2 separate regions of the Homo sapiens genome follow, and region 1 is linked to region 2. A link means that fine-mapping ties the variant in region 2 to the expression of a gene that starts in the linked region. Tissue or cell type: subcutaneous fat. Region 2 holds a variant in brackets; the other region holds the start of a gene. All regions are shown on one strand. Distances are from middle to middle.

Region 1 (6,546 bases), 82 kb before region 2:
CTCTAGCCAATATGCTTTTACTAATTTCATTTATGCATGCACTTAAGAAATATTTCTATTTGTGCCTAACCTGCACAAAATACTGTGTGCTAGGCCCTGATGGTGATATAAAAATAAAATTTAAGAGGAGCCTGTCTTAAAGGTTCTCACTGTCAAAGTGATCCACGTAAGTAATTGCAATACATGCTGAGAAATGGTAAGTGCCTTAAGGAAGATAGTGATTGTTCCATTGTTCAGGAGGAGGAGAAATGGCACATTTGACAGGAAAGTAAAAGCTGGATCTTAAAATAAGATTGGGACATGTTGAAATGGCTGGCTAGGATTTAAGCAGAAGGAAAAGCTTAAGCAAAAGAATGGATTTGGTAAGCACATTCAATTTGGCTGAAAGATATATTCATAAAGAAAAATAATAAAAGGCGAAATATCAAGAAAGGTAGTTTACAGCCAAAATATGAAAAAAAAATTAATGCCAGCCTGATAAGACCTATTGTATAGGAAAGTTAGAGTTATTGGAAGAATGTGACCAGGAAACAACATCATCAGTTCTGTGCTTTAGGCTAAGAAATCAAGCAATTGTGAATAAAGGATACATATGGGAGAAAGCTGGAACCAAGGAATCCATTTCAGAGGCCAGTGCCATAATCCAGCCAAAATCAAATAGAGGTTTGAATAGTGGAATAGCAATAAGAATACAAAGTAGAGAAAATGATAAGGAGATACAAAACTTGGCAATTGGTTGAATGGGGTCTGGATAATGATGCAAGGAAGGAGTAGGCAGCAGTGGATGAGGTTTTTGAGCCTGGGTGCCTCATTGCAGAAATAGAACCTTTAGGAGTTTGGAAGAGCATTCTTGAAAGGAGTTTCACACATACTGCATCGGAGGTGCCAAAAGGTGTTGGAGATTGCAGTCTGCATGTAAAACTAAGGGAATGTGGGTGGCATCCACATACAGACAATCAATGAAATCCTGAGTGTGAGGGAAGGGAGGAAGTTGAGAGAAGAAACAATAAAAATGTGTCAATATCAGTATATTAAGAAAGTTCCTTGAGGTCTTTGAAGGTCAAGAGGTGGAGTCAGATGGGCATAAAGATGGCAACAATAGACACTGGGGATAACTAGAGGGAGGATGGAGGAGAAAAAGGGTTGAAACTGTTGGATACTATGCTCAGTACCTAGGTGACAATAACATTTGTACCAGAAACCTCAGCATCACACAATATACCCAGGTAACCTGCACATGTAACCCCTGAATCTAAAAAGTTGAAAAGAGGGTAGGTACAGTAGCTCATGCCTATAATCTCAACACTTCAGGAGGCTGAGGCAGGAAGATCACTTAAGCCTAGTAGTTCAAGCCCAGCCTGTGCAACATAACAAGACCACATCTCTACAAAAAAATAAAAAATCAGCCAAGTGTGGTGGTGCACGCCTGTAGTCCCTGCCACTCAGTAGGCGTAGGCAGTAGGCTTGCCTGAGCTCAGGTGTTGAAAGCTGCAGTGAGCCAATGGCTCCACTGCACTCCAGCCTCAGTGACACAGCAAGACCTTTGTCCAAAAAAACAAACAAAAGACCAGTCACAGACTGGGAGGAAATATATACAAATCACACATCTGACTTGTTTCTAGAATATATAATAAACTCTTAAAACTCAACAATAAGAACAGATAATTAAGTTTTTAAAAGGACAAAATACTTGGATATTTCACCAAAAATTATTTACAAATAACTAATCACATAAAAATATGCTCAACATCATTAGTCATTATGAGAGACAGGACAAGCTGGATTTCCTAGGCCGACTAAGAATTCCTAAGCCCTAGCTGGGAAAGGTGACTGCAACTACTTTTAAACACGGGGCTTGTAACTCAGCTCACACCCAACCAATCAGGCAGTAAAGAGGGCTCACTAAAATACAAATTAGGCTAAAGCAGGAGGTAAAGAAATAGTCAAATAATATATCGCCTGAGAGCATGGGGGAGGGACAATGATCCGGATATAAACCCAGGCATTAAAGCAGGGAGTGGCAACCCTCTTTGCGTGCCGTCGCATTGTATGGGAGCTGTGTTTTCACTCTATTAAATCTAGCAACTGCACACTCTTCTGGTCTGTGTTTGTTATGGCTCGAGCTGAGCTTTCGCTCGCTTTTCACCACTGCTGTTTGCCACTGTCACAGACCCGCCACCGACTTCCACCCCTCCAGATCCGGCAGGGTGTCCGCTGCTTTGCTGATCCAGCGAGGCACCCATTGCCACTCCCGATCCGGCTAAAGGCTTGCCATTGTTCCTGCATGGCTAAGTGCCCGGGTTCGTCCTATTTGAGCTGAACACTAGTAGCTGGGTTCCACGGTTCTCTTCTGTGACCCACGGCTTCTAATAGAGCTATAACACTCACCGCATGGTCCAAGGTTCCATTCCTTGGAATCCATGAGGCCAAGAACCCCAGTTCAGAGAACAAAAGGCTTGCTGCCATCCTGGGAGCGGTGGCCACCATCTTGGGAGCTCTAAGAACAAAGACCTGCCCATAAGAATTAGAGATATAGAAAATGAAGAACACAATGCAATATCAGCACACCTCTATTTGGCCAAAATTGGTAAAACTGACAATACCTGGCGAGGATGCGGGGCAACTAGAACTCATACATCACTGTTGAGAATGTGAAATGGCACAGACCCTTTGCAAATTAGTATGTCAATTTCTTGCAAATTTAAACATGCACTGACTAAATGGCCCAGCAATCTCACTCCTAGGTATTTACTCAGGTGAAATGAAAATTTCTATTCACCCGAAAAAACATTTGTTGAATAAATTAATGAATGAATAATAAACGAATGGAGCTATCATAATGTAAAATGACTAGATAATATCTAAAATTGCTGAAACAAAAAAAAATATAAGCCTATTTTTGGAAAAAGGAAGTAACTACCACAAGGAATAGTTAGAAGAGTTAAGAGACTGACTCTTTAAGCACAGGACAGATGGTCAGGAATGGTTAAAAGGGCCTGCTGCTTTTCATTGACCTTCCAGTACTATTGATTTTTTTTAACTACGTGAATATATTACTTTCATAAAAATGTAAAAAGAAAAAGAGGAGTCAGAGAAAGAAAATGAATTGTCAGAAAAATTTAGAAGTTTTATCAACTGAAATGCAGAAAAGATAAATTGTGCTTGCATTTCATTTTTGTTGTTCATTCCAAACATTTATGGATTAGACTAGCTGAAATGAAGTAATTAAGAGACTCAATAGAAAACATTGCCAAGAATAAAAAATAATTTGAGGAAACCATGAAAAGTTTACAGGTTACTCTGTCACAAAATACTTTGTTAATTCACTACCCCGCAGCAACACACATCACCAAGGCTGGCTTCTGGAATGCTTTCTACTTGTAGCCATTTTTGAACAATAGGTGATTCCGCTTTTAACAACACTGTTAGAATATAATGTAGCGAGTTTTACCAGAGATGTTTAAGACTACCTGGCACAAGTAAATTTCATTGTATACATGTATATACACGAGGGAGGGTGATCATAGTCTAGAAAAAAACAGGTCTTCAGAAGTCTAGAACTTTAATAACCTTAAATCCAAATTATTCCCTGCGTCCATCCATAATGAGAAGGAAGAAATCTACACTTGCATTTCTTCCACCTTTCACATCTTTCTCATTTAAATCCTACTGTACTTGATTTGTGTTGTTCCCAACGTACTAGGTGCTATGCATGACGTAGAAACGTGTTTCCTTATATGTATGTACTAGCAGGCTCCTTCAAGCACATGCCTAAGGTTGAAAGATTCAAATATAATTATAGCCTCTTAAATTATTGCGTCAGAGCCCGCCCTATCCCCTCAGAAAAAGCCCCCTTTTACACCATCAAATGAAATATCAGGTTATTTGCACTGGATATTTTTTAAAAGAAAATATTTGATTTTAAAATCAAAGAGTTCTTGGTTTTCCATCATTTCACTAATTGTCTTACTAGAGACCCGAGTCTCCTTTGTCAAAATATATTTCAGTACGCATTTTAAAAAATATGTGTGTGTGTATACTTAAATATATATATATATAAAGTCTTGGACTTATTTTCACCTAGCCTGGGGCATATCGTGGATAGTTTCAATCGACAAAACAGGCACTCTCTGGCCTAGGAGTGGAATCCATCCTCAATTTTCGCAGGCTCCTCACAATTCTCTATTTGGAAGAAGTGTCCCTCTCCTTCCCTTTTCTTTTCCTCCTTTACTCAGCGTCAGTCCCCGCAGCCATCTCCTCCGACCCTTTTTGTCTACGTCCCAGCGTCGCGAACCACAGCGGCGGAGGTGGAGCGGGGAGAGGCGTTAGGCCGGGCGGCTAAAACGCGCCGTTAAAGTGGGGGAGAGATTGCGCGGAGCCCACGCGATCCCTGGGACGCCGGAGACAACGGGGCTCTTGGGAAGGCGCGGAGCCCGGGGAAGCCGGGGATGTGCGCGTGAGCCGTGCCCGCAGGGTCTCCCCGCCTCCGCCACCTTTCTTGGGTGGCTCTCCGCCTCGTCCTCCCTCCGAGGGCCGTTGGTACATTCCTAGTGACTCCAAGCGCTTAAAAGGGGCCCGGGAGGATGAACCCCACAGATCTGAACCTGATTTGTGTGTGCACCGCGTCTCCAGCGATCCCGGATCCACTGCGCTGCCAGGGGCCTGGGGGTGGGTCTCTTGCTGTCTCTGCGACGACATCCTTACGTTTCGGCACTCTAATGCTGGGTTTGTGCGTGTGTGTCTGCTTAGCGGTCTAGCGGGCTGTTAGGCTCCCTCGCCCCCAGCTCCTTGGCTCGCTCAGCTCCTCCACCGCAGCCCAGCAGTGAGACGCGCGCGCAGCCAGCTCCCCACGAGATGGAACAGACCGAAGTGCTGAAGCCACGGACCCTGGCTGATCTGATCCGCATCCTGCACCAGCTCTTTGCCGGCGATGAGGTCAATGTAGAGGAGGTGCAGGCCATCATGGAAGCCTACGAGAGCGACCCCACCGAGTGGGCAATGTACGCCAAGTTCGACCAGTACAGGTGAGCGCGCTGCAGCTTCAATGCCAGGCGGCGCCCACTCGCCCCGTCTGAGGAGGAATGGACGTGGGGGACGCAGCCCAAAGTGACTGGCTCGGGAAGCTCGGGCCGCGCTGCGTCCGCCGCTCGCCCCCTCGCTGGCCAGCCGCGGGGCTGGCACGACTCGCTTGGGGCTCCGCGGCCACAGCGCAGGCGGAAGGTGGATCCTACTGGCCTTGCTGACCTCCGGCCGGGAACGGCGGACAGGCGCCGGGAAGGGAGGCCACCGCGCGTCTGCGAGATTTTCTGTTCTCTTCTCTCCCGCAAACCCCTCTGCTTCTAAACCACCAGTCCTCCTGCCCCTGGCCTCGGGAGCAATGCCCACACTCCCAAGCCATCGTTAACCCCGGGCGCGGAGATGCGGAGAGACCGCACTCAGGTTCGGGCCCTCCTGACACCTTAAGGAACCGTCTGGCCGGACTAGCAGAGGGTGCTCCCAGGGGAGCACTACATCAGCCATCGGGAGAAGTGTGTGATGTTGAAGAAGACAAGTCACCCGCGTCAGTTCTCCATCACTGCGCCTTCGGTCGCCTGCAACCGGGCACCTTATAGCAAGCATTTTTACTCATGTAAAATAGCGTCTTGTGGCCGTCAGCTGCCACTACGGAATTTCTGCTGTTCCCTTTCCCAAACCAATTTAACTAACTTCCCCGACTGTGGGTTTATTCAAATCCACTGCCAAGTTTCGCAGATTAAATATTCGACCGTCGTTTTTTTCAGCCCCCAAATGATCTGATTTATCTTATCCTTGCTTCTGACGATCTGTAATGTAAATTAAAGACCCCTACTTCCCAGATGTACTTGAGTGAGGTGCCCTGGTAAGCTGGCTTTTTTGCAGCCCCGGCTTGGTGATTAAGTCGAATCTCTCTACCAATCCTCCGGGGCCAGAGGTAAAATTTAATCACCCCGAAGTGTGAGAGGTTCTACTTTTTCTGAGCAGTTAGTGCGTCAGTCTTTGTGGTTTTTTGGGTTTAGGGTTAGGAGAAAGGGGTAAGTGAAAGAAAAGAATAAGGAAAGAAGTAAGTTTGTTTTTCTTGGGAGCAGGTTCTTTTAGTCACTCTTCAACATGTGGGATGTTTCGTAAAGTTTTGTTGGCATGGGCGGTTTCAACTGTATTTTAGGATTTGAAATAGAAAAAGTGAAGACCACTAAGGATCCCATTTTTCATATACAAGTGACTTGAGGAAATTCCTTTGGCTCCTATCAGCTTAGTTCATGGTAGAGCCCTTCTGTAGCCGTGAAAGCTAGCAGAGAGTCTAGCTTTTAAATTTTCTTGCATTTGCTCCAGGTAATTGAAGACTTGTTATGGGACAGGTACTCTTCCAGACACTTGACACATATGAGGAATGGCAGGCAATGAAGAAGTTGAATGACTTGCACTAGGTCTTCTATCGATAGCGGCTCCAGGCTCCCGGGGTTAGCATTGTTGTTCCAGAGCCTACACTCTAAACCACTGTTAAACCAGGACAGGTTGTAACAGTTTTTA
Region 2 (8,208 bases):
ATATACCAGCAGTTCAAACAAATCTATAGCTAAAAAATCCAATAATCTGATCAAAAAATGGGCAAAATATTTGAATACACATTTCTCAAAAGAAGACATACAAATTGTAAACAGTTATATGAAAAGTTACTCAACATCATTGATCATCAGAGAAATGCAAATCAAAACTATAATGAGATATCTCACCCCAGTTAAAATGGCTTATATCCAAAGACAGACAATAACAAATGCTGACGAGGGTGTGGAGAAAAGGGAACCCTCGTATACTGCTGGTGGGAATGTAAATTAGTTCAACTTCTATGGAGAACAACTTGGAGGTTCCTCAAGAAACTAAAAATAGAGATACCATAAGGTTCATAATCTCACAACTCAGAAGGGCCCTCCACACTCTTGGAACTGTACACCCATTAGAAACCTTAAAGTAAAGCTAATCAGAGAAGTTTCTTCCCAGAAGCATTGCATCCGTGATGTGGACAGCTTTCTTCCAAAATCACAGATTGAGAGTTCTCTGCTATCATGAGACTCGTATCTTTCAATGTGTGCTTATGCCTCTGTGAACAATGGAAATGAAAAGGGGGTCTGTTGTGTGTATTCATGGGGTATACTCCTATTTATGAAAGATTTTGCAGCCAGCCTTATACACGGACAAGCTCATGTTGCGATAGATGCAAGATGAAGGAACAATGTAGGTAAGAAATTTTAACGGCATATTTGTTGCCTAATAATCAGTCAGAAATGAAACTTTGGTCCGCTCCTCTTAAACTACATCATGGGTTAAAGAGAACATTGTCAGGCCAGGTGTGGTGTCTCACACCTGTAATCCCAGCACTTTGGGAGGCTGAAGTGAGCAGATTGCTTGAGCTCAGGAGTTTTAGACTAGCCTGGGCAACATGGTGAAATCCAGTCTCTAACCAAAAATTAGCCGGGCACGGTGGCATGCATCTGTAGTCCCAGCTACTCAGGAGGCTGAGCTGGGAGGATTGCTTGAGCCTGGGAGACAGAGGTGGCAATGAGCCGAGATTGTGCCACTGCACTCCAGCCTGTGTGACCGAGCAAGACCCTGTCAAGAAAAAAAAAAAGAGAGAGAGAGAGAGAAAATTGCCAGGACGTCTTCATTCTTTTGGATGAGCGTCATTTTTAGGTCTTCTTTTTCATGATTTAGAGTAAATTAGGTAATGATTAAAAATTAATCTCTCATGATAGCATCTCTAGCAGATTCTATAGTAAAGGCTGTGGTTACACAACAGACTTTAAATTCTGTTGTGAAAGTTATGCTAAATATTAAAATTGCTCTAGATTACTTACTGGCTAAATGGAGAAGTAGCCGTGCAGTTGCTGGCATGTCTTGTTGCCCATGGAGAAATAAATTGTATACTATGGGGATTCAGTCATAGAGGATTAATGAACAGACTGCTTGGTTAAAGTAAATAGACTGTTTACCCAGCTCATTCTTTGATCTGTTTAATTTTAGTTGCTTTGGTTAATGGGTATCCCAGCTAAAGAGCATACTCCAAACCCTTGGTATTATTCTGCTGATAGTCATAGTAGTCTCCCTGGTGTGTTGTATTCTCTTAAAAGCCTTAAATGTTTGCACGCAGCCATCTCTAGAATGTCAAATTGTCTCTTTTCAACTGGAATGACGAGCTGAAAGAAATGTGTGACCATGAGGGCACTGGAACCTATGAATGATATGCTGACACTGAAAACCCAAAATGACAGTAAGAGTGGCACTAAGGCCCTAAGTTTTGGTCATACTCTCAACTAAATGAGAACTTGACCAGAAGGGAAGAATTTTTTAAACAAAATTATGGGAGGCCATTGTTTTGGATTGAGCTCATGCAATAGGCCCCAACAGATCAGACCAAACCAAAATAGACACTCATGCTAAATGTGATATAATCAAACTAAGGCTTTAAAGAAATAGATTCCAGAGGAGACCAGGTCTTGTTTTTCTCCTGTAAACAGGACATTTCAGCATAAGAAAGTACCCTCTACTCTAACCCTTACAAAAATATAACCTGAAGTTCTTGTTCCCACCTTACAAATCCCACTGTTCTGCTATTTCCTAGGGGATTTCGAGACCAAATACTCACATTTACAATGGTGATAGTGACATCAATGACTAAAGTTTTGGTCAATCTCCCAAAATTGAGAGACGATGACCAAAAGGGGAAAATTTTTAAATCAGGTTTAGTCTAAAACTACCTCCTCACATATTTTAAGTTCAGCCTAAAGGTTTCTCTGTACATAGTGAACTATAACTTAAACGGAGATGTAAATAGGCTATAACCTACTTTTGTGCCAATCACCCAGTTTTGGCCAATAAAAGGGGGCCAACTGTTTAAACTATGTTCAGATAAGGCAAATGCTGAGCTGTAACCAATCTGGCTATTTCTGTACCTCACTTCTCTTTTCTGTAAGTCACTTTCCATAAGTCACTTTCCATTTTCTGTCCATAAATCTTTTTCTACCATGTGGCTATGCTGGGATCTCTCTGAGCCTATTCTGGTTCAAGAGGCTTCCTGATTCATGAATTGTTCTTTGTCTAATTAAACTCTGTTAATTTAATTTGGCTAAGGATTTTCTGTTAACAGGGTGATTGGTAGGGAAAGAAAGTTGCTGGAGTAGTAACTTGAGGTGACAATACATTGTAAAGAAGGGTTTTTCAGAATAGGGATGATGCGCATAGGCTTTTAGTCAGAAAGAAAGGGACAGGAGGAGAGAAAGACATTCAAAAGGAGAAAAGAAAGTTGATGAAGAAAGGAAGTGGATGGAATTAGGAGTCAAGGCAGGAGGGGGATGTGGGGATAAGGATTATTCAGACCAGGAAAAGAGAAGCTTCTGCCTCTGCCAGAAGGAAGGAGGATGCAGGGAATGAAAATGAAGTCAGAGGAATTCTGAGGCAGAGGAGGATGGTCACAGAAAGTGGAGGAAAGATGGTTGTTTTCTTACTACATAACCTTGAGGACGGGGGCTGGCCTAGTGTCCTATTTTTGGACCACCCAAAACCATTGCTATACCTCAATAATAATTCATGGAAGGAAAGCAGGTGAACGGGGTCAGCCTCAGCAAATGCAGCATAATCCATTGCCTGTGGTCATAGTTTCTGGGGCACTGGAAAGAGACTTTACCCAAAATAATTTCTTCAAGCCTTTAAAAAATGTTCATGTTAAATGGCTTTATTGAATCTTAAGTCATATTTTTAGATAATCTCTCTCTCTCACCTGTGGCTCCTTTAGCATGGAAGTCCATACGAAAATGAAGTTTTCCTGCAAATAATATTAATTTAGCATTCATGCTATGTGTGTGGGCAAATAGTCATTTGCAAACTTGTTTTACAGGTAAACAAAAAAGAATGAAAGGGGTGCAAGGTAAAAAGAACTCTGAAGAGTTGTTTTATGGAAAATAAAAGTACAATTTATTCAGTTTTTCCTTTTGTAAGGTCAGGTCTACTACATAATTAGAGCTTCTGTGTATTCAGGATATCACAAGAATACAGAATTGCAAAGCATCTCTACTGTTGCCATGGGTGTGACAAAAAGGTACCAAAATTTTAGAACAATCTGCAGGCCAGATGCTGCTGCTTAATGTTTGATTTGCAAAAGAAAACCACAAAGAGCTTTCATTAACAAATGATTGGCATCCTTTGAAAACTTTGCTTAAAAGGAGAAACATCATAAGAATTTGTGAAGGCGATACAGCCATTCTTCCCTTCACACTTTTTTCTTTGTGTTCTTAAAAGCAGCAACAATCTTTTAACCAGAGCTTTTTAAAGAACATAACGTTCTTATGTCTACCCATCAACCCATATTTAAATATGTGTGGGTAAGAGCATAATTACTGGAAACTGTGTGTTGGCAGTATATAGGAGAACCTGCTAGAGGTGAAGGAAAAGTACAGAAAAGAGAAATCTTGTACACCAAAGAGAAATGTCTCTTGTTTCAAAATTTTCTTAGGATTACCGTAAAACAAAATTCCCTTCAATTGATGTAAATTTAGTATTAAGTCAAATGAATGACCCAATTGCTATTTGAAAAGTCATTTTTAAAATTATTGTAACTTTTAAACCATGGTTTTCATTTTTACTAACATGAAAGTTCAATTTTCCATTACTCACTTGGAGTTAAGCTTGAAAACATACTTCTTTTTCCCTTTATTTTTCTTATAACTGATTGTGCAATAAAGCTGAGACATAAAGTACTCTGTAGAGTAGACGGGGTTTGAGAAATTTCTTTAATCCAGTGCAAATGTAGGGAGTTGATTGAAATATCAGAATCTCACACTGTTTGTCAAACACACACTCACCCCATGTCTTCTTGGAAGTCACAGTGCTCCCACCTATTTTCATTTTACAACACAACTGGTTTGATGCAATTTCACAGTTGAGATTTTTTACATAAGTTGAAGTTGAGAAATCTTAACTCATTCTCACCTACTTGGCTTCAGTTTAAAATATTGCTATAATTTAGGCAAATAGTTGCAGAAAAAAATATGCCATGGAAAGGCTAAACAATAGTAGCTATGGCAACCTGCCTTTGACTCTCTCAGCCTTGTAGGGAATGGTGCTTCTGTCTACACTTCACAGCAGTCTCTTTGCCAGCACTCCCT[C/G]CCACCACAGATCTCTTCCTCAGGGGAGTTTCGGTGAACAGTACGGGCAGTTCATTCAAGTGGAAAATTCCTGTCCTCCGTATGTGCCAGCAGGTCGGTGGGGTTCCAATGCCCGTGACAGCTTGTTGTCTTGAAATTTTGCTGAGACAGAAAATTATGCCTTGAGCATCTCAGAATTGATATTTTTCTTTTGCTGCTCTGGTTGAAAGATAGAACATGTGTGGACTAGGATAGCAGGGTTTTTACAATGTTCGGGTAATCTCAATCACTGTGCAAGAAAACAGCTCAATAGTATCTGTCTCCCCTCAGCTTCAAGCAGCTAAATAAAGATCACTCATCTCTGGAGTCTGGAATCAAGGCCTTTCTTGCCTTGTAGTAGAGTGACTTCACTGTGGTGTGGTAAGGAGACCATCTCTTTGCAATAGCACCATGACCATGAGTGGCTGCTTGAAGGGAGAGTGGCAGCATTTGAGGTCTCTCTTCTCTGAAGGATTCTAGCCAGAGTGTGCAAGCTCAAAGGTCTACAGGGAATAAACAAGTGATGAAATTGAGTGAGGCAGGGAGAGGGAGACTTTGGGAACTGGAGAACCCTTGCCCAATATAAAGGCCCTGGCTTGGTTTAAAGTGGAGAGCCTCCCTCAGCTCCATCTAGTTGTTGTCATACAGAAATGTGGCTCTGTCTTGCCAGGTCTTCGGATTTGTCAAGAGAAGTCAGATAGTTACATGAAATTTATTTATTACAAATTACTGGTAGCAAATTCATTAACATTTTGTGAACACTTCGTCAAGTTTTCAAAAACATTTCACCTCCTTCAGTTCTTTGCCCAAATGTTGACTTCTCAGTGAGGATTTCCCCTGAACACTGTTTTGGTTGACAACCCCGACCCCACCCTGGCACATCCTTTTTCTCCTTCTTTGCTTTCTCTTTCTCCATAGCACAACACTTAATTGTTATCCAATACTGAGAGCAGGAATTTGTAACTGATTGCTCCTCTTCTGGACATCCAGCACCAAGAACACTGTTTGGTCCACAGAAGGTACTCAAGAATATTATTGGATGAATGTGAAGCAATGCAGGTCTGATACCCAGGCATAGGACTAATGTGAGATGAGTGAGGCACCAAGGGTGCAAAATTGAAGGGGCACTTAGCTTGTATGACCATGAGAGTGAGTGCCTCCTTAAATTTTGTGTCCTGGATACCTTACTCCCTCACTCTAGTCTTTGCCATGCTGGTGTAGTTGCCATAAGAATGTCTGATATGATCCTGAGGGTGGAATGAGAGACAGAAAAAAGGACTAGGATGTTTAACAATTAACATGCTACTGTTATTTAAAAACGCATGACTACAGTGAATCTGTATTGTGTCCATCAACAACATGAATGATATGGACTAAAAATGGTACAGGGTAATCTTCAGTTAGAATGCATACCTTCTGGGAATTAGGAATGTTAATTCACGCTCTCTTTTTCATTTTTACACAGAAAAACGTAAATCGTGATGAAAATTTTCATCAGCTGGGGGAGAATATTGATTTCAATTTTAGGCATGGGATGACCAGAGCTAAGAATGCCTATTTATTGAAAACCACCAAAATGTACAACAAATTGAAAAAAGAATTACTACCTGTAGAAGAGGTAGTATACCTCATTTTCAAGTTGAAGTTAAAATTAAATTTTGAATGAAAACTAATTATGAGAAAAGTTTTCAGTACTGTAACAAAGGCCAGCTAATGTTTTCCATTTATAGTTTTACTGGCTGAAAAGGAATATTGTCTGCACTCATAGCCACCAAACAAACGGCGATCCATAATATACAGGATGAACATGGTGGCAAATGTTAAATGGGAAATCTTGACTGAGGCTCTGAGATAGGATAACTATTAAAAGGAGTTAGTGAGGCAGATCAAAATGCAAACTGTTCAACTGTTAGAGAACTGGTTTCTCAAACAGAGTTGCAGTAGGAGGAACCTATCAAGGGAACTGCCAAAGAACCCACAGTAGTCCCTGTGGGGGAACCAGTTTTAAACATCTTCCATGCCTGATCGTGCAAAACTTTTTAGAATGACACCAGTGAAGAAAGAACTTTCTGTACTCCTTTCCTTTCTGCCCTCCAACCCTAGGGGCCTGAGGTTTGTGCTTAGCAGGTTTGAGAGGAGACACTGAGAGAAAGGGGCGGGGAGAGAGAGAGAGAAAGAGAGAAAGCCACCACTCTCCCCTAAATCCTGGCCTTGCTAGGAGATGAAAAAAAAAAAATTAACAATCAAAGAAAGAGTTTTGTATGTTACATTGGAGTGGGCATTCTCATTACTGGATGGAGACTGTTTTGTGACATAAAGTGCCCTAGGACTATTTCAGAAGAGTGAGCAGAAAAGTCATGCAACATGGAGGATTTCATTCAGAGGAAGTAAATTTTAAAGGGAGAGTGGGAGACAAAGCTCGGGTTTCCTTTCAGTGATATCTCATGAGAGTGATTGTTAAATGTGCTGATTACCCAGGGCTGTGGCAGACTACAGCCAGTCTCTGCGATTATTGTTAAATTTTTCCAGATTTGCTCTTGTGAAAACTACCTATTTGCTTAATAAGACTGAAAAGGAAAGAAAAGATGATCAGGTATAGTCATAGGTGATTTGTATGGCTCTGTAGTAACTGGAAGGTAAAGGAGGAAAGGAGCTGAGAGCAAATGTACTGGAGGGAAGAATGGTGCCAAGAAGTCCAGGGGAGCTGGGAGGTGGTGTCCATCCCCTCCTTAAAGATCTACACCTTACTAATACAAAAGATGGGATTCTGCCTTGCAAAATAGAGAGCTCATACCTTTCACTCCAGATATTTCAAAATGAGACGCTGAAGCACAGTTAACGAACTATAAAAATTAAGATAACTAGTAATACATCCCTGAATGAGGCAAGGAAGTGGAAGGAACATACTCTTGGAAGACAGAAGTCAGATCTGCCACTTATCTTTCTGTGCATCTCAGTTTCCTCATTTGTAAAAAAAATAGATATTAACACAGTTTTAGGATTGTTGGGAGGACTTAATAAGATTATATATGTAAATAAAGTGTCTTATACAACTTGAAGTACAACTGTCATTCAATACATGAGAGATATTAAAGTAAATGCTAGAAGACTCACCATCTATATTGGAAAAAAGTCATGTGTATCATTATATTATTCCTCCCCAATATCATCATTATTATGCAATGACAGGCTTACAAATATTTTTGCAGAAAACTTATATTCGAAAAGTAATATAATGGTGTAATTTGCTTGACTAACAATAATACAAGAAAGTACATGACAGAAGACAGGGAAGACCCCATATATAGCCTCCAAGAATAGTACCTCTTTTCCATTTTATTTTACACCCTAAAAATATATTTGGAGGGTTTTGATACCTTGAGAATATTAGGAAAACTATTATAAAGTGAGTTACATTTTTTGTAGTCTGTCTTTAAAAAGAAAAAGGCTACTTTATTTTAGGGTGGTAGAGTCTTAGGCTTATGCAGCTGAAGTAACAACTCCCAATGCAAATTATTTTGTAACTTTCTTTTATCTAATGCCATCTTGGTAAATATTTATAGGACCTGGCAAATCATCCTA

Which allele goes with the higher level. Positions count from the first base shown, and alleles are read on the strand shown. Sizes are in standard deviations (SD) of each study's normalised expression.
In carriers of allele G in region 2, the expression in subcutaneous fat of the gene that starts at base 4,593 in region 1 tends to be lower than with C alone (moderate effect, 0.40 SD a copy in GTEx).

Evidence for each region. PIP is the estimated chance that this variant, and not a neighbour inherited with it, causes the effect.
Region 1: CDO1 starts here. The variant in region 2 is fine-mapped to the expression of CDO1 in subcutaneous fat (GTEx, PIP above 0.99). The same link has a PIP of 0.9 or more in esophagus muscle, gastroesophageal junction and visceral fat.

What each region holds. Positions count from the first base shown.
Region 1 is chr5:115,814,706-115,821,251 of GRCh38, reverse strand. It overlaps CDO1 (cysteine dioxygenase type 1), which reads left to right and starts at 4,593. Exons shown (of 5, transcript NM_001801.3): 1 at 4,593-5,024. The coding sequence starts at 4,855. LOC124901049 (a long non-coding RNA gene) reads right to left here and starts at 4,164. Exons shown (of 2, transcript XR_007058908.1): 1 at 4,081-4,164.
Region 2 is chr5:115,732,212-115,740,419 of GRCh38, reverse strand. It overlaps LOC124901048 (a long non-coding RNA gene), which reads right to left and starts at 1,376. Exons shown (of 2, transcript XR_007058907.1): 1 at 1,306-1,376. The variant C/G (reference allele first, on the strand shown) is at 4,609.